Linked DNA regions of Homo sapiens. The protein of the gene in region 6 interacts with the protein of the main gene of each other region in a pairwise test. Each region holds a gene or a part of one and is shown on either strand. Other genes may lie near its edges. The genes, in order: TIA1, DOCK2, DDX21, AATF, ANXA6, MAPT and ANXA2.

Region 1 (3,940 bases), on a different chromosome or scaffold from region 6:
TAGGTATGTGGGTGATAAAAATTCAGACTCTATTTTATCCTCAAGAAAGAGTAAAATCTTAATTCACTGCTTGAAATTCTACCAGATTTTTTTTTTTTTTTTTTTTTTTTTTGAGATGGAGCCTCCCTCCTGTTGCACAGGCTGGAGTGCAATGGCGCAACCTCGGCTCACTGCAACCTCCACCTCCCGGGTTCAAGCGATTCTCCTTCCTCAGCCTCCCGAGTAGCTGGGATTACAGGCATGCGCCACCATGCTCAGTTAATTTTTGTATTTGTAGTAGAGACAGGGTTTCGCCATGTTGGCCAGGCTGGTCTTGAACTCCTGCCCTCAAGTGATCCACCCTCCTCAGCCCCCCAAAGTGTTAGGATTATAGGCGTGAGCCACTGTGCCCAGCCAATTATACCAGTTTCTTAAACAAATGTATTGATTACTTACCATGGACCACACTAAGAACATATATTGAGAGGCTGTGTTTTTAATGTGCTAAGAACTCTGCTAAGAACATATATTAAAAGCCTCTGACTTCCAGGGTCATTAAAGCAAAAATCTTACATTAAAATTAAAAACACTATTAGGAAAACTTAGGGATTAGTACCCTCATGTTTGGTCAAGGTTTGCCTGACTAGAAAAATGGGAGTTTGGGTTGAGGGAGGTAGAAACAAGAGAAGACTTTTACAGTATGACTACTTTGAGGAAGAGTTTCTTGGATGGGGTGTATTAGTGAGGGATACAAGGCAAAATAAGTAATAAATGTAATAGTTAAAAGTTGAGGACAGGCCAGGCGCAGTGGCTCACACCTGTAATCCCAGCACTCTGGGAGGCCGAGGTGTGCGGATCACCTGAGGTCAGGAGTTCGAGACCAGCTTGGCCGACATGGTGAAACCCCATCTCTACTAAAAATACAAAAATTAGCCGGGCATGGTGGTGCCCGCATGTAGTGCCAGCTACTTGGGAGGGTGAGGCAGGAGAATCATTTAAACCCAGGAGGTGGAGGTTGCAGTGAGCCGAAATCGCATCACTGCACTCTAGCCTTGCAGCCTGGGTGACAAAGTGAGACTCCATCTCAAAAAATTAAAAAGTAAAAACAAAATTAAAAAGTTAAAAAGTTAAGTGGTCAGATACTTCTGCAGTTTCTAAAATTAAACATTTTCAAACTAATACTGAGAATATTAAGTTTACATTATAAAACACGAGCAGTGCCTTAACCCAAAATGCTGATGACTGTCATAGCTAAGAGGCAAGAGGGAAGAGATTCCACCAACACCGTGAGGCTAGTAGTTTTTTAGGGAGTATTCATCTACAGATACAATCTTTCCTAAAACAAAGGTCATGCACTAATTGCTACGTCCTACTGAAAAGATACTTTCTGAGCCTCAGGAATAGAGAAAAGAAATTTCAAGGTTACTAACAGATTAACTGACAATCTATTAAGAAAACAAGTGTAACCACATTTCCAATATAGACAAGAAATAGCAACTTAAAAGTGGAAAAATTTTGGAGGTAAAAAAACAATTACATCGTACTTCAGAGCAACTTTATTAGAGAGCTGCAAAGAGAAACCTAAAATTGCATTTTTAATGCATGGAGCTCTCAAACTGCCAGTATTCCAAGAATATAAACAAAAAGCTATGTCATCCAAGAAAAACAAAAAGCTATGTCAAGAACTCATTGAGCTTTTCTTCTTCCGAGAAATGCCAACAAAGGCAGGATCAACTCATCCGATAATACCTCGAAAAACAAAGAACGCAGTTGGGGAAGCCACACGACAAAGAAAATATCCACGCTCCGGTAATTTAACGCTATCTCTAAAAATTCTCTGTAAATATGTTAGGGCATTTACAGCCCGCTCGTTCAACACCATGTCAATCACAACAGTAGTAAACGACTATAAAAATAATATTAAATCCATTTCCCCTCAATTGATATATTCCTTCTGGGTGAGATTTCCAAATCCTTGGGGTGTCTGGTTAGGCTTTTTGGTCGGTGGGTGCTACAGAAGGAAAGCCAGAGGTTAAAGAAAAATGCTTGGCTTTTTTCCAATTGGCAACTGCAAGAATAAAGTTTACTGCACTGAAAATGAGTACAAGCACCCTCGAGGAGGAAAAAAAATCTTATCACCGAGAAGAAAATGAAAGGAAGAATTTCAGTAGGAAATCAAAAGTAAAATTAAAGGGAGACGGCTGTAAAGATAAGAAGAGGTTAATCAAAAAGGGGGAGAAGCGGGAAAAGGAAAGAAAGCATAGGACAAAAGGAAGGTTCGACGAGTTCTAAAAAGAGGTCTGAATTAAAGTCTTTTCTCCAGGTCTAAGACCACAGAGGGCCCGTGGCGAGAGCAAAGGTCATGCAATGGTGTTGCTAAAGTGAAGGGATTAATTGAGAGGGTTGAGCCCCGTCTCCCTTCACCTCGTCCTCACAGATTGGGTCTTGGTTGTAAGCATCCAGGTGCATGCTAAGGAAACAAAAACCACGATATCGCGGTGTCCACGGAGAACAATAGGCTGGGAGCGGCGCAGGGCCGAGGCCTTCCCTCCGGGACGACCACCATCCCGCCTCCCTCATCGCTGCCCCAGACTCACAGAGTCTTGGGCATCTCGTCCTCCATGGCTGCTGCTGTCGCGGCGGCGCCTCCAGGTCCAGCTCCCTGCCCTTCACTACCTCCCAAATCGTTTAAGCGGTTATGGCTACAGGATAGTGGGGTTTCTCGGCTGACCAGAGGTTACTCCGCCTCCTCCTCCGGCGGCAATTACACTAAACCGCCCGGCCCAGCGGGAACAATGAAACCCCAATACAAGATGGCGGCGAGCCGGGAGCCTAGGAGCAGCCAGCAAAGTTACCCGGGCCGCGCAGGCGCAGAATAATCTTGCACTCTCAACCTCCGGGCCGCCCGGCTACACCTTAATCCATAGGTTCACTTGTTGCGCAGCCGCTCTTCCACCCGACGCGAGGGACGCCTCAGACTGCGCAGGCGCAAGTATTAACTACTTCACGATTTGCGTGAACTTTTTTGTCTTCTGGCTGCGGATTCGAGTGTTTCGACCGCGAATTATGAGGGAGTGGAAACCTTCAGGGACAGTAAAAAGCCTAAATCTTTCCTCTTTTGGAAAGATATATAAAGACTCTTCAAGCTATCTGGTTTTTAGCGAGCGAGAAGCAAAACGCCTATGCGCCGCCCGGGAATCGAACCCGGGTCGCAAGAATGGGAATCTTGCATGATACCACTACACCAGCGGCGCTGTTGACATGCCCAGCCGCCACAGTATTTTAGGAGGAAATAGAAGCAGACGTTCTCTCATGTGAAAAGAATTGTCATGTATTATTTATTCATTTAAAAGTAAAAGTTTATTGACAGTCTGTAATCTTCTGTTTTCCAATAACATAAATAATTTATCTTTTCTCATCCCAAACATAGGAATGGATGTTTCAACTTTCTCTGTACAGAAAAAAAATTTCAATTTAAAATGTTTACTTAAGAAATAAGAAAAAAGAAAAAAAGTTTTACTTAAAAAAGTAAGGATTTTATTAAGAATTTGCGTCGTTGGTGCTAGCCAGATTTTTCAGCGCGGGGAGGATATTTCCAGATGCCAGATTTTTATTTATATTTGCATTTCTTCCGTGTATTGATTGCACATTGAAAAGCATTTAAGAAATAGCTGTTTAGGCCGGGGGCAGTGGCTCACGCCTGTTATTCCAGCACTTTGGATGGCTGAGGCGGGCGGATCACCTGAGATCAGGAGTTCGAGACCAGCCTGACCAACATGGCGAAACCCTGTCTCTACTAAAAATACAAAAATTAGCTGGATGTGGTGGTGGGGGCCCGTAATCCCAACTACTCAGGAGGCTGAGGCAGGAGAATCCTTGAATCTGGGAGGTGGAGATTGCAGTGAGCCGAGATCTTGCCATTGCACTCCAGCCTGGGCAACAGAACGAGGATCCGTCTCAA
Region 2 (2,608 bases), on a different chromosome or scaffold from region 6:
CTGCTGCCTGACAAAGCTACTCACCTCCTTTGGGCCTCATCTGAAAAACCTGAGAATTCCTCCAAGAAAAGCCACCACTTGGGAGCCGGTGACAAGATCCAAGAGCTGGACCATAAGTCCACTGGACCTCAGACCCCTCTTTTCCTAACTCTTTGGCATTATGTTTGGTCTTTACTAGAGTGACCTGGCTTGGGTGGTCTTGCCATCTCTTTCTAAAGGTGAAGAAAGGAGGTATGACACTCCACTATTCAGATTCGTGAGGAAGACCAGGGCAACTTTTTTAACATGCTGGTAGCCCAGGGTTTGGCACCTAAGGAACAAGAGTCATGGAGATTCTTGAAGAATCTTCTCATAGATGAGGTGGGGAAATTTGGCATTGGGCAAGGGCATCACCAGGCTCCTTCACATCACTGCAGCCCCTGGGCCTGCCTTCCTTCCAGGGAGCTTCCTGCCCAGTCCTGGGCCCAGGAGAGTCAGCCAACAGAATCAGGCAACAAGGCTTATTCGAACCAAGAGAACATTTTTTATTGTCAGTAAGAAACAGCAACTCTTCAGAGATGATTGGCTAGAAAAGAAACTGGTTGGTTGTATAAAAAAATGTAAAGTACAAAACTGTTAATCTAAAATAAAATTAAAAAGAATATTTAAAAGGCTTCCTTTTCTGTTAAGTTCTGAGACTTAATAAATGAGATAAAAACAGTTTCTTACACCTAAGAAACTGGGTTATGAAAGCTGTGCCTAGGATGTTGGGGAGAGCACACTGGGAGAAGGCATTCTTGCTGGTACCTTGAGTTCAGGAATCTACGTTGAGGCTTCCTCATCCACCATGATCACAGCCCCAGGGGATGCTGGGCTTGTTAGCATTCAAGCTCTGGGACCTGATTGGCCTCTCTGTCTCCTCTAAGTAAGGACAACTGATGGGGACAGTCTCCCACTCTCTGAGGCTTCGATGTTCCACGCATGGCTTTCCTCTTCCAGAAACTCCCCTCCCTGGCTCTCCCATGCAGCCCTAGTCAGCAGCAGCTCACAGGTCCGTGGACAGCGAGTCTGGGATCTGTTTGCCTTCTTCAGCCGATTTGCTGGCCAGCTTTTGAGAGAATAAACAAGCACAAAACCAAGATGCGATTATCAGATTAAGCACCAAAATGGAGCTTCCCAGTCCTAATCACAAGGGCCTCAACACTGACCCCTGCCCAAAGCCCAGTGAATGTGAGCTGCTATGCCCTTGGCTTTGGCCAGAAAGGCAGTGGTAGACAGTAGAGTGAGCCCAGGCTCACTAGCCATGTGGACTTGGGCACCTCACTTACCAAACCCTGTGAGCCTCCCATATAAAATCCTAAGAGTGGGAGCTCAAATGGCACCATGCTTGGGAAGTGCTTAGCATGGTGCCTGACTCATCGTGTGCTCATGGTAAACTTGAGATATTTGTAGTAGCAGAGTCCTGATTTCATATTACCTTGAGGATCAGATGTGTTATGGTACCTTCTTGATCTTGAGCAAAGGCCAACAAGTAACAATAGGAGATGGGACTTGCAGAATCAGCGCTTGGAAACTAATGTTCAATTTGTAGGATTTTGTGATATAGGTTGAATAAAAAAGGGCTGGAGCACTAAGGGGCAGTTTAGGCGAGGGTAGGCCACCTACTGCTTCTGAGGTCCCTGGGTCCTGCACATCCCTAGCTGGGGTCAATCCTGGTCAGAGGAGCTGCCTGAGGCCCCAGAGGAGAACTGCCCTCTGGGCATTGCTGCACAGTGTCCCAGAACTCAGGGCCTCCTGACTATGCCTCCCTAGGAATGACCACATATGCACACACAACCCCCCATTTTCTTCTCTCTGCATTGCTCTCTTCCCTTTCTCCTCCCAATGCCTTCCTTTCCTTCCACCCTCAATGTCCTCACCATTGTCTTGAAGAACTGATTGACCTTCTTCCGTGTGAGTGTCTTCTTGTCACCATCTGAGAGTTGGAGGAAGGTCTGGCTGAGGCGGGGAGATGTGTTGGCCTCATCCAACCCAGGGATGCCTGCCACTGAGAGCGCCAGGGCTGGAAGGAGAGCAGAGCTGGGGTGTGAATGGGTGGGTAGAGGAGGGGCAGTGCCTTGGGGGAGGTAGACAGGGGGAGGGCTGGGGGACAGAGCCAGCATCCAGGGATCACACATTGTATGTGCCAAGCAGGAGGCAGGATGCCTATTTCCTGCCGTGCCAGGGGACATTGAAGCTGTCCTCTTGCAGTGAAGATTGCCCACCCTACAGACAAGGGTTCAGCCTCCTGGCTCCTGGTCAAAACCTTGCCCCAAAGCCCTGACATCCCCAGGAAACAGAACCTTCTGCTCCAAGGCAGGGGACAGTGTGAGCTTACTCTTCCTCCAGCTCCCAACACCAACACCCTGGATTTCTCTCCCCATTGCAGGAGACAGCGGGAAGAGAGTCTCAAACCCACGTGTCACCTGGTGGAGGGGCCAGATGACCTAGTGGTTACAGCCCCAGCTTGGCGTCACAGAGACATGAAAAATTAGTTACTCTCTGACTGCTGGTTTTGACATTGGCCAAATGGGAGAAAGAGCCCAGACCGCCAGGGTGTGGTGAGACCTGCTGAGCAGATACCAGTGAA
Region 3 (2,699 bases), on a different chromosome or scaffold from region 6:
AGTTCTATATTGCCAAACATCATTCTCTTTTTGCTATATAAATCTTCTATTTCTAATTATTGACCAAATGCTTTACTGAAACTCCGCTTCTGGCCTTTGTTTTGGGATCTGTTACTTTTGTTGCCACCTCCTGATCGCTGTCCTCTCGGGCCTCTACTGCCTTCCCGCTGTCCTCTGAATCTTCTGTTTCCGTCCCGCTGTCCCCTGAAGCCTCGACTGCCTTCCCGCTGTCCCCTGAAGCCTCCATATCCTTCCCGTGGTCCTTCCAGTTCTGGTTGCTCTGTGGCCACAGAGAGCTGCCAGCGTCGTGAATCATGCCATTTCTCCTGTTGAGAGAATGTTTTGTTTTTGTGTGCTTTAATTAGTATTCAATTTTTAAAAAGCATGAGAAAAACAAAATATTTGCCACTTCTTCAAAGAAAAGGTGATAACATAAGTGCTTAACAAGTCACTGGTCAAAAATAACACTGGCCACCCATCATGGTCCAAAAGCCAGTGTCCCTGAAGTGTGGGAAAACACAGTTTCATTATGAGAAATAGCCCTCATCACTACTTCATTTATTAAGTTATTAAACCATTTATTCAACTCAATTGCTACAGGGTATCTACAGCCAAAGGTAATAAAACAAATATATTAAGCACACATTTCTCACAGTATTGAATAAAGATGTAACAATTTTAAATGTCTATGAAAACCTGTAGGCTGGACGTGGTGGCTCATGCCTGTAATTCCAGCACTTTGGGAGGTGGGTGGATCACCCGCGGTCAGGAGTTCGAGACCAGCCTGGCCAACATGGCGAAACCCCCGTCTCTACTAAAAATACAAAAAATTAGCTGGGGGTAGTGATGGGCCTATAATCCCAGCTACTTGGGAAGCTGAGGCAAGAGAATCGCTTGAACCCGGGAGGCGGAGGTAGCAGTGAACCGAGATTGCACCACTGCACTCCAGCCTGGGCGACAGAGCGAGACTCTGTCTGAAAACACACACACACATGCACACACACACACACACACACAAAATCTATATACCATATATAAGTGTTAAAGGGTGGGGAGAGCTGGATATCGTTCACAACTTTGTATAAAGGAAATATAGAAACCAGGTGGGTTCAACTACAAAAATATCAGAATTAAAAAGTTAGGGGGGAATATTCCAAAATTTAATTATCGATTATCTCTTACTAAAGGAACCAGAACTATTGTTTCCCAATCTATTATTCTCTATTTTCATAATTAACATTCTACAATTTAGGTATGTTAACTTTAAAATCTAAGGGAAAAGAATACCTGTATTTCTGTTACTGATGCGGTAGGTACATCAAAGCAAACACCCTAGAAATCAAAGCAAATGGAAGTTAATCCAACCAACGCACATGAAAAATACTCCCTTTAAAAGACCACGTATTCTTTAAAAAAAAGAAAACAAAAAACATAAAGCAAAAAAACCACCAGGTATAATTTTAGATGAACTTTAGACCAAAGCTAATACATTATAGCTGCCAAAAGTACACTGCAGAAAGACAAGGAACATTGAAAAAAAGAACCCCAAATGATTTAGAACTTTCTAACTATAGACAGAGTCTTAGCTATTACACTGTGCTAACCCCCTAGTGGCTATTAGCTACATTTTATTGCTGAGCAAACAGGCTTGGAAAGGTTAGCTGACTTGTCTAAGGCCCCACAGCTATTAAATGGCACAAGTATTTAAAATCTAGTCTGTATGGCTCTAAAACCTATAGTCTAAACTATATACTGCCTTCCATCAGAAAAGCAATGCCAGCTATTCAGAATGACCTAATTAAAAGCAGAAAAACAAGTGATCTTCTATTGTTGATTTTCTGGTTTTTCTTAATTCAGCCTTCTGTAAGAGTATGAAAAAAATAATACAGGACACCATCTTTTTTTTTTCCCTCTTAAGATAGGGTCTTGCTCTACTGCCTAGGCTGGAGTGCAGTGGTGCAATTAACAACTCACTGTAACTTTGAATTCCTACAGGTGCATGCCACTACATCTGGCTTTTTTTTTTTTTTTTTTTTGGTAGAGACAGGGTCTCACTACATTACCCAGGCTGGTCTCAAGAATTATCTTCCCAGCTCAGCCTCCCAAAATACTGAGATTACAGGTGTGAGCCATGGCACCTAGCCAGGACACCATCTTTAATATTAAGTGCCATCCTCTCCAATCAAGGAAATCGTCTAAAAATATAGTCAAACTATGTGTTAACTAATACAGGCACTCCTCTCCCTGCTGTCTTCAACTGCAATATTTTATAAGGAACACCCCTTTCACCCCAAAATTTACCCAATCATAACATAGGTATCATCACCTACTGGTGGATTTTGCCATTCATGGGAATCTTCGCTTACATATTTACGAAGTAGAGTATAATCCCAGGCATTCACTGGGTATAGAGGTAATTAGAAAACAGTTTTTGCCTTTGAGTGTTCTTGAGGCTCTCCATTAGCAAACACAGCAAGGTAAAAGTTTACCTGCATAAACATGTGTCCTAAAGACTCTGAAGTACAGATAAAGACGCCCCTAACATTGCCTGGTAAGATTTAAGGCTAAGCAAAGTCATAAAAGCTACTTTGGAGGAAAAGATTTATATATATATAAAATTTTTTTTTTAAGACGGAGTTTCACTCTTGTTGCCCAAGCTGGAGTGTAATGGCGCGATCTCGGCTCACCGCAACCTCTGC
Region 4 (3,500 bases), 8.9 Mb from region 6:
TACCATGGAACAGATTGGATAAACTGTAAAAACCTCTACATATCAGATGATACTCTAAGCATAAGTCAAACAAAGAGCCTTAACTAGCACTCTGTCTACTATAGGATCAAGTTCAGAGTCCTCATGAAAGACGAGACCTTTCCTGATTAGTCTCATCTCCCATCACTTCCTTGTGCATCCTGCACTCCAGTGCGTTTTCCCTTCATTATCTATGAGCTGTTGCCTTATGCTTCATAAGTAAAATTATAATGTCTCCTTCTCCACATGATACCATCCCCCACCTTTCCAGGAGAGTTAGGTGGTTCCATCTCCATACACTGTGTACTAATGACCTTGTAATATAATTATTGGCATGCATATCTACCACTCCCACCAGACCATGAACTCCTCCCAGCAAGTATTAAATTCTATTTGCCTTTCCTTAGCCCCTGGCTCATAATGAGTGCTTAATAAGTATTTAGTAAATAGGGCAGACGGATGTGATAGATTGTACATTTTTTCAGATCAGGTTTGGGAAAACTGGTAATTCTCTAACACCAGTTGAAATCTTACTGTTCTTCAAGGGCCAGAGCAAATGCTAGCTCTTCCTTAGAGATTAGCTTAAATTCACTTGCCCCACAGTTAAAATTTCTCACTCTTCTGGGTTATTGAAATTTTGTCAAAGCACTTCTGATGCTTCCTTGAGTTGTAATGTTGTGAGTCTGTCTTTCCCACTAGCTCCTTTTGTTAGGGTAGGACCCGTGTTCTATTCATCTTTGCTTCTCCCTTAGCATTTTGGAGATTGTAGATGTGTAATAAATATATTGTTGAATTGAGTGCAGTAAGAGATTTTCCCCCTGATGCCACAGTGCTTAAGTTGAAATGAAGTCTATGGCTTGGTATTTTCTCCAGGTAATACCCATTTTTCTCTTTCTTCCCTCTCTTCTTTGTAGATGAGGAAATATCTGATGAGGAAGGGTCTGGAGATGAAGATTCAGAGGGACTGGGTCTGGAGGAATATGATGAGGACGACCTGGGTGCTGCTGAGGAACAGGAGTGTGGTGATCACAGGGAGAGCAAGAAGAGCAGAAGCCACTCTGCAAAAACACCGGGCTTCAGTGTCCAGAGTATCAGTGACTTTGAGAAATTTACCAAGGGAATGGATGACCTTGGGAGCAGTGAGGAGGAGGAAGACGAAGAGAGTGGCATGGAAGAAGGGGATGACGCGGAAGACTCCCAAGGCGAGAGTGAGGAAGACAGGGCTGGAGATAGAAACAGTGAGGATGATGGTGTGGTGATGACCTTCTCTAGTGTCAAAGTTTCTGAGGAAGTGGAGAAAGGAAGAGCCGTGAAGAACCAGATAGGTTTGTACATGGTTTTGCTGATTGCCTGTTTTTCAAAGTATCTGCATTTGGTCTACTTTTCATTTGTTTGTTTTTGGCTATTCTCTATCTCCTGTGTCCTTTCAATTAGTTTGTGACATGCCCCACTTACCCAGAAGCCTAAAGCCCTATTCCTGTATGCTTAGCCAGCCATTTCTGCACTGATCTGCTTAGCTGGTTCTGCTCTAGTACTTCCTGCAACTGGGGAAGATTGAAGAGAAGAGTGTTTTCTCCTCTCCTTGGGTTTTAGCATTCCCACTCTGCTGTAGCAAATACTTGCTTCATGGATACTGAATTTATTTTCTCTAATAGAGAATATTTGTTTCCATGGCATTAAACTGCTAAAGCTGTGGTGCTTAGAGACTGGTGTGGTTTCCTGTTCTTCCCCACCCCTGCCACCTCACCCCCAGAATATTTTATTATTGAGGAATGGGATTCTCTTTTCTTCTTTTCAGCACTGTGGGACCAGCTCTTGGAAGGAAGGATCAAACTACAAAAAGCTCTGTTGACCACCAACCAGCTTCCTCAACCAGATGTTTTCCCATTGTTCAAGGACAAAGGTGGCCCAGAATTTTCCAGTGCCCTGAAAAATAGTAAGAATACTTATGTCCTGTTGGAATACTTAGAACCACTTTGTCAAATGAAGACAGCTTTGATTGAAGTGGACTGGGAGCTTGAGCCATGTTTATTGTGCTTTCTTCTCATCTGCCCTTGCTCTCCCCTCCCCATCCCCCTTGGCTTTCCAAGTTGCTTTTTTTTTTTTTTTTTTTTGAGACAGAGTCTCGCTCTGTTGCTGAGTCTCAAGTACAGTGGCGCGATCACAGGTTACTGCAGCCTCGTCCTCCTGGGCTCAAGCAATCCTCCCACCTCAGTGATCCTCCCACCTTAGCCTTCCGAGTAGCAGGGACCACAAGCGTGCACCACCCTGCCTGTAGAGAGGGATATTTTGTAGAGACAGGGTCTCACTGTGTTGTCCAGGCTGGTCTCAAACTCCTGGCCTCAAGCAATCCTCCCACCTTTGCTTCCCAAAGTGCTAGGATTACAGATGTGACCTACTGAGCCTGGCCCTGAGTTAATTCTTTAAAGCTCAGGGGACACTGGTTGAAAACCCACTGATGTAGAAAGGGAGAAAAAGAATGTCTAATTCAGCTCATTAAACTTGGTTGTATCATGTGTTTAAAAGATGCTTCCTATGTTTGAGAGGTTTTTAGAACAATGTGCTAAGATGATCTTATTTATATCTTTCTTTGAGTGACATAGAGTGAGGAAAGATGATATGCCGAGGGAGAAACACATTTTAGAGGAGAATTACTGAGCTATAAAGAATTCTAGAAGAGGAAAAGGAATTGAGAGACTATTTGGTTCCCAATGTCTTCATTTTACACATGAGAGAATTAAGACCCAGAATGACTTGCCCAAAGTTGCAGAGCTTATTTGTGTATGGCGGAGATGAGGCTCCAACTTTTCTACCTTATGATGTAGGAATCTTCCCTCTGCACCACACTGCCTCCTGTGTGCTGCTTGCCTGTGTGCCCAGTGGCACTGAAGGACTGGGGCAGAGGGAGATTTAGGGTGAGTGTGCTGTGTTTGGGATCTGTATATATCTATATCTAGATATTCAGAGTCCTCATGAAAGAGATATCTATATCCATAGATATAGATATATATGTATAGATTATGTATCTATCTCTCTATATATATATTTGGGAGGCCTTGGCCTCCCAAAGTGTTGGGATTACAGGCATGAGCCTCTGCGCTCAGCTGAGATCAATATGTCTTACTTGCATGCTGAGACTTCATGTTTTCATTTGCTCTTTAAAACTTATTTTTTTAGTATCATGGAGTTAGAGTTGGAAGGGACCTGAGGAGGATATCTAATTTGGCATCTGCCTGTAGGTAGAACCGCCTTAAGACATTCAAGATCAATGTGTAGGATTTCCCAGGTAGGGAGTTCAGTGAACGTTTCTTGTAGGTGAATACCTGATGTAATTAGGAATGGCTTCCTAGAGTCCAGTTTTTGGGTTTTGTGTCCCGCCACACTTAAAGTCTGCTTCTTCCCCTGTGGGAAGTCTGGGCAGTCCTTCCCAGGAGCCTTACGTGGCCTGTGTGGGTGAGGTGGGCCATTTATATCCCCGCCCC
Region 5 (3,500 bases), on a different chromosome or scaffold from region 6:
ATTTTTTTCTCAAAGTACTTCCCGATGCCCCCAGGCACAGTTCTATTTCCCTCCTTTCCTCCCTCTCCTAGGCTCCCATAGCTTTCTACTTCTTTATCACTTTGATCTACTGTATATGATAATGATTTCTTCACCTGTCTATCTCCACACTATTGCATGAGCTCCTCAACAACAGGGACTATGTCATAGCATTCTCTGTATCAGCCCCTGTAGTGCTGCTGGCATGTACTGGGTACTCAAAACACCTGCAATGTACAGTATATTGATAGAGAAGGTGTTTGTGTGATTAATGTATGCCTGTCTCTCCCGGTACCACTTGATTTTGTTCATTAGTGATTTCTAAATGCTTGGCAGAGTGCCTAGCACATGCTAGGTATTTTACTTCAATAATATCTAAAAACTGAATGAATAAAGAAAGCTCCAAAGTACACCTCACCAATATACCAATATTACATATGGGATATACCTTTGAAAGATAACTTATATCTTTTCTTCAACAAAGCACCGGTATACATGACAGCTGTGGCTGGGTTATTTCTGGTATTTGATGCAAATGACTTCACCTCCAGCCCTTCCCAGGGCCCCAACCTCTCCCCTCCCAAGGCTCTTCTGCTGTGCCTCAGGGACTTTCAGTGGTGCTTGTTTACCTGGACATCCTGTTGTACCAGGTCCTCGCTCACTACGTCATCCTCCTCCCTGGTTCCCTGGGCAGAAAGACAAAGAACATGTGTTTCAAACACTGCAAAGTCAGGAGGGAGGCCTGGATGCCAGTGGTGGAGACAGGGAAAGCAGGAAAACCCTGGTGGCCCAGATGTGTCCAGAAGCAGTGACTGCTATTGCATGAAGACCACAGTATCTATTTTGTGAGCCAATCAAAAGGGACCCTCCCTCTGGCCTTTCCCTTCCTCGTCAGGGCTGGGTCCACACAGGAGAGTCCCAAGAACAACCAAGGTTCTTCCAGGTGTCCCCAGCCCAGAGGTAGGCAGAGCCTTGCCCTGAGGACCTCTCTGAGGACAGGGCCCCAGGTTCTCGAGGGTCCCTGCCACAGATCCTGCATGGCCCATGACACTCCTCCAGCAACGATTCCACAGGGGCAAAGGATCTGAACATTTGCATTCTATTAGGAGCTCTTATACCTTAACTTAAAGAATTCACCAATAAGGATTTGGGACTCAGGTCCCAAGATCTGAGCTCACAAGCTACAAAGTCACCAAATCCTAATGGTGCTTCTGTTGTTCTGCCCATGCCCTTTGCCTCATCTGATAGAGGAAGCTTACACATAGGAGGATGCACAAAGGGAAGAGGGGCGAGCAGTACTCAACTCCTTCTTACGTGGGCAGAGGTCTGCAGGTGGCCTGGAGAGGTCTATGGCCATCCCCTCTTCCCCCTGGATTGTGCATTCCAGGATCTCAAACCCCCAGGGTTCTCTTTGGGACTGAGCAGAAGACAGAGCTGGCAAGCTTACAATGTGTGCCGCGCTGCTGCTTGGTGTCAAACCTTGAGGATACAAAACGCTTGACTCCAAGATACAGGGATAGGACACTCCTCTCCAGAACAAGCAGCTTTGAAAATGGGGCACAGGTCACACTGTCCCACTCCTGAGGTTTCTCCTGATCATTCCCCAGCTGGTTAATATGGGATTGTTATGGCAATGAGAGGAACAGAGTTGGGAGGAGCTGGTATAAAAGGGAAATGGGGGAACGAGGAAACATAGTGGTGGCTTAATTTATATATAAAGTTTCATAACCATTTGGTCCTTGGAGCTGAGCTTGAGACATCTCAATGCCTGTTCCCATCGTGCCTGTGGTCACAGAGATACCTACAGAGCCAGGTAGATAACATTCACGGTGAAACGGGCAGGACGCATATGCTCTCCAGCCCACTGCAGTCGTGCAGAATGCAGGTCTGCTGCTACCGCAACTTTCAATACATTAAAATAATCCAGAAATCTGGTTTTTGAGCAAAATCTCACAATTTTTAAATGTTAGCAACTAACTCAAACTTGTTTTGCTTTCTTTCTTAAAACACATTTTATGGGAAAACAAACAAAAAATCCAACTTGGCAGGTTGAATTCAGCCACAGACACCAATTTGTAGCCTCCTAATAGTCTCTTTGTGATATACTTTGGGCGGGCGGTGAGGAGGCAATAAGGCTCGGATGTGGGAGACTCCACACAGTAGCCACAGGAATGCTGGGGTCCAGAAATGCTGCATGTGCAGCTGCAGAAGCAATGGCAGGAAGGAGGCCCAGAGAGGAGCGGGAGGAGCGAGTGTGGAGAGAGGAAGAAAATCACAGCAGAAGACACTCCTGGGCACGAGAGGACTGTGTGCCAAAGAGAAAGAGGATTAGCCAAATACACCTGCCTGTGCAAACCAGGGGAAGCTGACCAGACCCTGGACATTCAGATCTACACCCAGATGAGCCAGACAAAAGCTATCCCAAGCTCCAGAGGAAAAAAATAGGCTGTGAACCAACCTGGAGCAGGACCACAAGCATCTTCTGGAAGTGGCCAGAGGTGTCGCCGATGATGTCAGCCTCCAGGTCCCGCTCGTAGGCTGCAGAAAGGAACGCAAGCTCTAGTCTCATCCCCAGAGACCTCAGGGATCTAGGATAAAGGGCCCTGCTGCCCCCAAAATGATCAGATATTTTTAAGAATTCCAAAACCCAGTCTACACGTCCATCATGGCAAGACCCAGGGTATATTTTCACAGCTCTTCGTACTGACCATGATATGATGAAATGGAATCTGTTCATTCTCTCTAGCCCACCTATACCATGACGGCCCACCTGGACAGTGGCTACAGCTTTCCGATGGTTCTCTCCTCCTCTATTCTCAATTCCTTTCCAACCCACGGCAACAAGGATGGCTGTCTTAAAACCCATATCTGATCATCATACTCCCCAACTTCTCATTAGACTCAGAATAAAACACCATCTCTCTCTTGGCCTGCAGGCCCTGTGTGATCCTGCCCTGTCCTCTACCTGTCTAGCCTTGTACCGGCTACCAGGCTCATTTCTATTTCAGGGCCTTTGCACTTGCCGTGACCTCTGTTGGAAGGATCTTCTCTCCATTCTTTATACGATTGGTTCCTCATTTCCTCCCAAGACCTCACTGGTAAAAGTTTGATTCTTGTTACCTTATTTCCTGTACAACACTTAGCTAAAATCCATCATCACTGTGTTTATCTGTTCACCTGTTTATTGTGTGTCTCCTTCATTATCTCATTATCTCATTGGCCTAAGAGAGAGGGACCCCTTTGGTTTTATCCCGAGAACCTAGCACATCACCCAGCACAGAGCAAGTACTTATTGGGTAGATAAATGGGTGGACAAATGGATCAGAGGAAAGGAGGAGAGAAGGTAGATGGCTAGAATCTTAGTGTCCCCACTGTTGCAATCATCCTCATTTTGTATCTGAAGATCCTAAGCGGCCCCTCCTGCCCATCTCACCATCTTTGTATGCTGCCACCAGCTGGTGCATCTGCTCATTGGTCCGGGA
Region 6 (3,500 bases):
CTATCTTGATCCCTACTCAGTGTAACAATTTATCTGTACAACTGATTCCATCACCAGGATCTTTAGACCCCTCTGGTCATTCAGCCAATCACAAGCACTCATCCACAGGACACCGCCGATGATGCCATTTACTGAGCAGTTACTATGTGCTTGGCCCTAGTGAGTACCGGGTTAGCTTGTGTGAACCCCATGGCAACCCGTGAGACAGGTACCATCATACTCCAAGTTGTGGATGACAAAAAACTCTCCAAGCAGCTAAACAATATGGCTTAGGTCTCACAGTGAGCAGGGAGCTGGGATTTGTGCCCAGGAGGCCCGATCAGAGCCTACCTCCTTAACCATTAGGCCAAACTGCCTCCACATGCAGAACACTGCCCTGCACTGGGGACCTGGGGGAGGGTAACAGTGTCTGCCCTTGAGCTGCTCCCAAACCTTCCTTGAATAGCCTTGGCACAAAATGCATTTCTTGGGGACTCGCTGACATGGTGTTTGGATTTCTATCGGGTCCCTGATTGGGCTCAGCATGGAGCCTGATGAAATATGAAAAAAGCAAAGAAAATTAAGGGACTATACATGGAAGTTGTTCGAGTTTGTATTTTGCTGAAGCCCATTCTATCTGCATGCTTACAGAAAGTTTCCTAACTGGAGAACCCAGAAAGCTCAAAACCTGTCTCAAATTCCTCCTCACACTCAGTTGGGAGCCATCTGGGCAGGCAGGGAACCTGGCAGAGGTGGCAGGAGCATGGCACCTGGAGACAGGAAAGGAATTCTTGGACAGCAAACTCTTTGGCAAGGCAACAGGGGCGAGACAGAGGATTCTCAGGTAGCCCCAAGGTACCACAGTATAATGGAATACTTATTGCAAAGCCTGGGCCCCAGGAAGTGAGAAAAGCCTCCCAGGCCCATCTTTGCCAAAAGATTCTTACAAGAGGACTTGCCTATGCCCACCCAACTCAACCCACACCCACAATCTCAGAGCAGGCCTCATCAGTGGGCGCCAACGCTTTCACCTTGCCGAGGTACAGAACCTAAGCTGGGGATCTGATGTCCCTAAACCTCAGAGACTTGACCTTGGCCACACTGAATCTACGTCTTGATCCCCCAGTCTTGATTTCCAGCCTTCCCTGGGTCAATCAAACCAGCTGCCCCGTCATATGGCAGAGCAGTCCAGAAACCCTGGATTGGGGGAAGAGGTTTAAGGACCTTAGGAAGAGATATTTGCTCTTTGTTTTATAAACAGAGCACCAATGTAGAGTGAAATGCCTTGCTCTCTGTGTCGGGGCCAGATAAGAAATTGAGAGCTTTAACTCCACATCTCCCTAACCTTATTCTGGGTCATGCTCCGATTACAGACTCTTGTAAAAATTCATTTGTGAGACAGTGGTTTTGGAATCAATATTCTACTGGGTCAATGTTATAGATCATATCTGGGTTCCCAGACTAGTCCACAATGGCCAAGTAAACCCACATGTGGCTGAGAGGGGAGGGAACTAGTGTCAGGCAACCAGCTCCACCACCCACTGGCTCTGTGACCTTTAGCAAGTTACTAACCCTCTCTGTGCTTCAGTTTCCCCATCACGGAGATAATAACAGCACCTGCTACATAGCGGAAGTGTTGTGAGGATTAAATGAGATAATCTTAGCAAGCACTTAGAATAGGGCCTCCTAAAAGACACTCAATGAATGTAATTAAGATAGCAGTGCCAGTGTCAACCCCAGCAGTGGTGACATTGGGACTGGGTCATATTTTGATGTAGGAGACTGTCCTGTGCCTTCCTTGTAGGATGTTTAACAGCATTCCTGGCCTCTACCCACAAGATGTCAGTAGCACCCTCCCCGAGTTGTGAAAACAAAAACATCTCTCTAGACATCTCAGTGGCCCCCAGTTGAGAACCATGGTTTTACAGGAAAACAGCTGAGAGTCCCTGCTGGAACATGAGGACTCCTCTCCCTGCTGCAGCCCAGCTGGTGAGGCTGGGGTCTTCTCTTCCCGTCACCTGCTGAGGTGCCCCCCAAACGCCAGCTCCATGTCACTAGTGGAAGCACCTAACTCCTGGGCATGGCAAGTTAGGAGTGGCCAGGGGGGTGTTTCTGGGAGTGTGAGGGGGCTTTGGGGGTCTCTGAACACGGTGATGAGGAAAGTGGTGGTGGAGGAAAGAGCAGAGTCAAACGCAGTTTCCCACCTGCTTCCCACTGTATTTCCCCATTTATCCTTCATGGATAAAATCCATTTGGTATGGACCGAATACCTCTTGTATGTCTAGCACTGTATTAGGCCCCTACGGCTGTTTTTATTTGTTTTTGAGTGATTCTTTTTCAAGGAGGGAGTAAGGAAGATGCTAAATAAATACATCAATAGAAGGCAAGGTCCAGTTGGAAAATTATCACATGTCCAATTGGAAAAATAACACGTGTTCGTACATATAGCCACAGAGCTACTGAAACCACACACATAAATGCTGAGGGAAAGTGGAATAAAACAGTTTCTTTAAATTTTCAACAAATGGACTGTAACAACAGATGTTAAAAAGGCAGAAGGAAAACCACAATCTTATCCCATCTCCAGGCTGGCACCGACCTCCAAGGGCATGAGGGTCAAAGGGCACGTTTAATAGAAAGGCCACTTTTTCCAACCGGAATAAATCTAACCTTTCCTCAATCAAAGCGATTCTAAGTTTTCTAACAATTTATGGGCAGTATCCATTTCTTTTGTTCCTGTCGGAGGAGCAATGCCTGATATTAGAAACCACTTAAAAGTCACGCCCTTCCAGCAGGAACAGTCATGGACTGTCACTCATCCAAAACCCAGCAAAGCCAACAAGCCCCTTCCCCAAATCGTCCAAAGGTGAACCCAAGAGCCAAGCCAGGTTATTGCTATATAAACATCTGTTAGAGAAGCAAACTTGGCCAAGGAATGTATGAGCTTCAAGAGTCACTCCGGACCTGCGTAGCAGGGGTGGGGGCAGGGGATACACTTATCTGTTTATCCATTAATTTGTTTACGTAGAGGGAGGATTTGGAGATGCTTATACAGTAAATATAAGCAGCTTATACAGTAATTATAATACAATGCTTATACAGTAAATACAATGCTTATACAGTAAATATAAGCAGCCATCACAAAACACAAAATGACACCCCAGAATCAACCGCGGTAGGAAAGACATTTCCCTGTCTCCTGTAGGATGGGTCAGTTAAGGGGCCGAGGGGGATCAGATAGAACTCAAATTGGTCCTGCTGAGCCTGGAGCCTGAGCACGCAGAGGGGTGAGCTAGGCAGTCGCTGTCGGAGCCCCCATCATCCCTTCCAGCCTGGACCATTCTGAGACGGAGGTTTGGAGTTACAGGTGTGTGAGCGCCAGAGGGTGAGAGGGGTCACTCGCTCGGAATGTAAGAGCTCCCGCCTGCTGGGAATGGGGAGGAGTCGTCGATGGCCCCAGGATCCGTGCCCAGACATTTCCAGAGGCGCACCGGCTGGTTCAGCACCCCACCGTCATCCGC
Region 7 (3,500 bases), on a different chromosome or scaffold from region 6:
CTACTGTATTTCAATATAGATGCTATTTTGAATATTGAAATATACTTTCATTCAAAAGCATTGTTTAATTCTTAGTAGTTTTTGCCGCTGTGCATTTTCTCAGTGGACAGTAAAGCACAATTGTGTGTGTGTGTGTGCGTGTGTAGACCTCCAATTTTTTTGATGTTCAGAACAAGTACTCACAGTCAGGAGGGCTGGGAGCCAGTATTTAAACTACACGAGAGGTCACCAATCAACGGTGAGCCTGAGGATCCCTGATTTGATCTAGCCCTGCTGCCCCCTGTTATGGATAATAACTCTGGCTCTGATTTCATGAGGGCGAAAATCATTCTAGTGAATCCTTCCTCTGTTTGGGGTTAAGGAGAATGGATATGTCCAGCTGACGTAGCTGTTCTGCTTCTCAGAGTCTTAGTGGGAAATGGGGAGATTGGGGTGGATGGTTGGCTACACAGGCAGAAAGCATAAAACCAGATGTATTTTCCTCCAAGTGTACAAGACTGATCTGGAGAAGGACATTATTTCGGACACATCTGGTGACTTCCGCAAGCTGATGGTTGCCCTGGCAAAGGTTGGTTTCCCAGTTTCTTTCTTTGCCCTTGCTTCCTCCCAAGGCAAGTCACATACCTCATTTTATACTTGGAGTGAATTAACTAAATCCCCTGTGCCTGCATCAGAAATTCAGCTGCATTTTTGAAAGTGGGTTTGCACTGTCACTGCAGAGTTGTCAATTTTGTATAATAGGATTTCTTATCCTGCAAAACCTCATGGACAAGTGGACTTTGGGAGCCAGAGAAGGGATGGGCGGCTCTCAAGTCCTGGCCTGGATTTATGTGCCAGAGCCTTGGCCGTGTGACTTAGGGAAGGTCACTTTGCCTCTATCTGTGGTCATGCAGGACCCAGTGGGAAGTGACCTTCTGGTTTCTTTTTCACTGCGTTTACTTCTCATGGAAGAATTTGCCCATATAGTCCTTTGTCTGGGGTGGAGTTGTCTTTGTGGAGCTGATTGCTAATATTAACACATTAACATGGAGGAAGGGGCATTTCCCCTGTGAATCCCTAGTTCTGGCCAGCGTGTAGCTTAATACTTATGTGCCAGGGGAGGGACGAGAGACCCTGGGAACCCTGATGACAAATGACAGATAGTGCGTCCGGCCCACTCACATCTCCATTACTGCAACAACTCCTATGCCATTCTCCCTCGCTCTCCTCTCTTCGCTACCACCTGCCCCATGTACCACCATCCACGGATCTCTGTGAAATACACTTTCACCATTTTACTCCTCTGTTCAAACCCCATTTCTGCTGCATCAAATTTAAACTCCTAACTGCTGTGAAAGGTCCTCTAAACCCTCCCTGCATCTTCTTTGCTCATCTTTCCCGCTCAGCTCTGCTCTGACAGGGCAGCTCCTTACTTACCTGAGAGCGTGCTGTGCCATCCCTTGTGTGCCAGCTGGCTCTCCCGCTCTGCTTGGCTAGCTGCATCTGACTGACCCTTGAAGTTTCAGCTTAAGCCCAGGCCCATCGTTCACACTCTTTGCTGACTCTGCCCTCTGAGAGTTCTTCCTCCGCCCGCATTTTGTGTCTTTCTAGTGCTGTGGGTTCCCGGGCTGCTTTACATTTGTTTCCACATATTCCTCCATCTGCATTGCAAGCTCTCTGTGAGAAAGAGCTAAATCTCATCAGCTTTTTGTGGGGGATGGGGACAGGGATTCTGTAAGGTGTGTAGGCCAGGACTGGGTATCAAGGGGGGGATTGTTGATGGCAAGGCACAGCCCCCACTTCCTTGCTCAATGATTTTACCACTCCTTGGCTGGTCTAGGTTTCTTTTTCTTTTTCTTTTCTTTCTTTCTTTTTTTTTTTTTTTTTTGAGACAGAGTCTCACTCTGTCACCAGGGTTGGAGTGCAGTGGCGTGATCTCAGATCACAGCAACCTGGTTCAAGCGATTCTCCTGCCTCAGCCTCCCGAGTAGCTGGGACTACAGGCATGTGCCACCACGCCTGGCTAATTTAGTAGAGACAGGGTTTCACCTTGTTAGCCAGGTTGGTCTCCATCTCCTGACCTCGTGATCTGCCCGCCTTGGCTTCCCAAAGTCCTAGGATTACAGGCGTGAGCCACCGTGCCCGGCCCCATCTATGTTTCAAAGTAAGAAAAATCTTACGTGGTTACTTATTTAGGAAATTAAATAATGGCGTACATGGACTGGGGAGAAAACATTTTCAGTTTTAAAATACACAAAGAAATGTATTTGAAGTTCTTTTTCTTTCCCCCATAGGGTAGAAGAGCAGAGGATGGCTCTGTCATTGATTATGAACTGATTGACCAAGATGCTCGGGTAAGTGCTGAGCTTTTTGCTTTGAGTTTTTGTTTTCTGGTAAGTCTCTGGATAGTCTATATAGTAATTTAACTCTGTGTGACAAATGACTCCCAAACTCTGTGGCTTAAAACAACAAACATGTATTATTTCTCAGTTTCTGTGTGTCAGGAATTGAGGAGTAGATTAGCCCAATTGTTCTGGCTCAGGGTCTTTTCTGAGGTTGCAGACAAAATGTTGCATGGCTGCAGTCACCTGAGGGCTTGACTGGGTCAAGGGAATCTGCTTCCAAGATGGTGCACTTCACATGACTGTTGGTAGGAGACCTTAGAATCGCTCCACATATGCCTCTCCATGGGGTTGTTTGAGCGTCCTCACAACATGGCAGCCGGCTTTCCCCAGAGCAAGCAATCTGCAAAGAGGAAGCCACAGTGTCTTTTATGACCTAACCTCAGGAGTCCCACCTTGCACTGCTGTCATACTCTTTTCATTAAAAGTGAGTCACTGAGTCTAGCCCACACTCAGTGGGAGGGGATTAGGCTCTTCCTTTGGAAGGGAGGAACCTCAAAGAATTTCTGGCCGTATTTTAAACCCACCATAGTCTGACAGCAATGTTTATTAGAAGACATTCTCTTATAATGCTGGTGTTACTTACAGAATCAATACGTGACTCACATATGCTCACTCAGGCTTTGCTTGTATGGAAGCATCAGTTTCTGCAGAGTGTAATGTGGCTGTGCATACCAATCAGGCAGGCAGGTGGGAAGCAGAAGAAGGTGGAGGAGACACAGCCAGGGACAGGATGGTGTACTGCTCTGTTGTGGTGGGGGAGAAAGGGAGGCCAGCAGAGACCTGTCCTTTTCTGGCTGAATAAGACTTTTGCCAGTTCTAGTTCCATTATCTCTGAGAACTATTTGTTAAGCTTATTCAGACTGCAATGAACTATATTCTTTACTCAGAGGGACAACGATTATCTCAAAGTAAGTCATAAAAGCTGCAGAAAAAAATTAATTTAAATTAATGTTAGTTTTAAAATTCAATATATTCCACACGGCACTTCTAGCAGGTAGTAGAGAAGGGTTTTAAATAAAGTAATAGAAGTTGGGTTTTGCAGTTCCTAGATGGTGGAAGATCACGGAATGAATATCTACCCTTGCATAAGCCTTTCTTCCTCTTGCCCTCCCTGCC

What was found.
Region 1: the proteins of MAPT (region 6) and TIA1 interact in a protein complementation assay, tested with the Homo sapiens proteins (one study listed by BioGRID).
Region 2: the proteins of MAPT (region 6) and DOCK2 interact in binary tests that used the Homo sapiens proteins (3 or more experiments, as listed by UniProt).
Region 3: the proteins of MAPT (region 6) and DDX21 interact in binary tests that used the Homo sapiens proteins (3 or more experiments, as listed by UniProt).
Region 4: the proteins of MAPT (region 6) and AATF come close enough for resonance energy transfer, tested with the Homo sapiens proteins (one study listed by BioGRID).
Region 5: the proteins of MAPT (region 6) and ANXA6 interact in binary tests that used the Homo sapiens proteins (3 or more experiments, as listed by UniProt).
Region 7: the proteins of MAPT (region 6) and ANXA2 interact in binary tests that used the Homo sapiens proteins (3 or more experiments, as listed by UniProt).

What each region holds. Positions count from the first base shown.
Region 1 is NC_000002.12:70,245,829-70,249,768, forward strand, and holds the start of TIA1 (cytotoxic granule associated RNA binding protein TIA1), read right to left. Parts: upstream 2,801-3,940; 5' UTR 2,603-2,800; coding exon 2,577-2,602; intron 1-2,576. UniProt on the Homo sapiens protein: RNA-binding protein involved in the regulation of alternative pre-RNA splicing and mRNA translation by binding to uridine-rich (U-rich) RNA sequences.
Region 2 is NC_000005.10:170,081,275-170,083,882, reverse strand, and holds the end of DOCK2 (dedicator of cytokinesis protein 2), read right to left. Parts: intron 2,042-2,608; coding exon 1,899-2,041; intron 1,088-1,898; coding exon 1,025-1,087; 3' UTR 501-1,024; downstream 1-500. UniProt on the Homo sapiens protein: Involved in cytoskeletal rearrangements required for lymphocyte migration in response of chemokines. Activates RAC1 and RAC2, but not CDC42, by functioning as a guanine nucleotide exchange factor (GEF), which exchanges bound GDP for free GTP.
Region 3 is NC_000010.11:68,980,170-68,982,868, reverse strand, and holds part of DDX21 (nucleolar RNA helicase 2), read right to left. Parts: intron 1,333-2,699; coding exon 1,288-1,332; intron 327-1,287; coding exon 57-326; 3' UTR 1-56.
Region 4 is NC_000017.11:36,951,954-36,955,453, forward strand, and holds part of AATF (protein AATF), read left to right. Parts: intron 1-932; coding exon 933-1,343; intron 1,344-1,816; coding exon 1,817-1,954; intron 1,955-3,500. UniProt on the Homo sapiens protein: Part of the small subunit (SSU) processome, first precursor of the small eukaryotic ribosomal subunit.
Region 5 is NC_000005.10:151,133,780-151,137,279, forward strand, and holds part of ANXA6 (annexin A6), read right to left. Parts: coding exon 3,452-3,500; intron 2,557-3,451; coding exon 2,477-2,556; intron 705-2,476; coding exon 648-704; intron 1-647. UniProt on the Homo sapiens protein: May associate with CD21. May regulate the release of Ca(2+) from intracellular stores.
Region 6 is NC_000017.11:45,897,554-45,901,053, reverse strand, and holds part of MAPT (microtubule-associated protein tau), read right to left. Parts: exon of another isoform or gene 2,256-3,500; intron 1-2,255. UniProt on the Homo sapiens protein: Promotes microtubule assembly and stability, and might be involved in the establishment and maintenance of neuronal polarity.
Region 7 is NC_000015.10:60,352,987-60,356,486, reverse strand, and holds part of ANXA2 (annexin A2), read left to right. Parts: intron 1-488; coding exon 489-568; intron 569-2,273; coding exon 2,274-2,333; intron 2,334-3,500. UniProt on the Homo sapiens protein: Calcium-regulated membrane-binding protein whose affinity for calcium is greatly enhanced by anionic phospholipids. It binds two calcium ions with high affinity. May be involved in heat-stress response.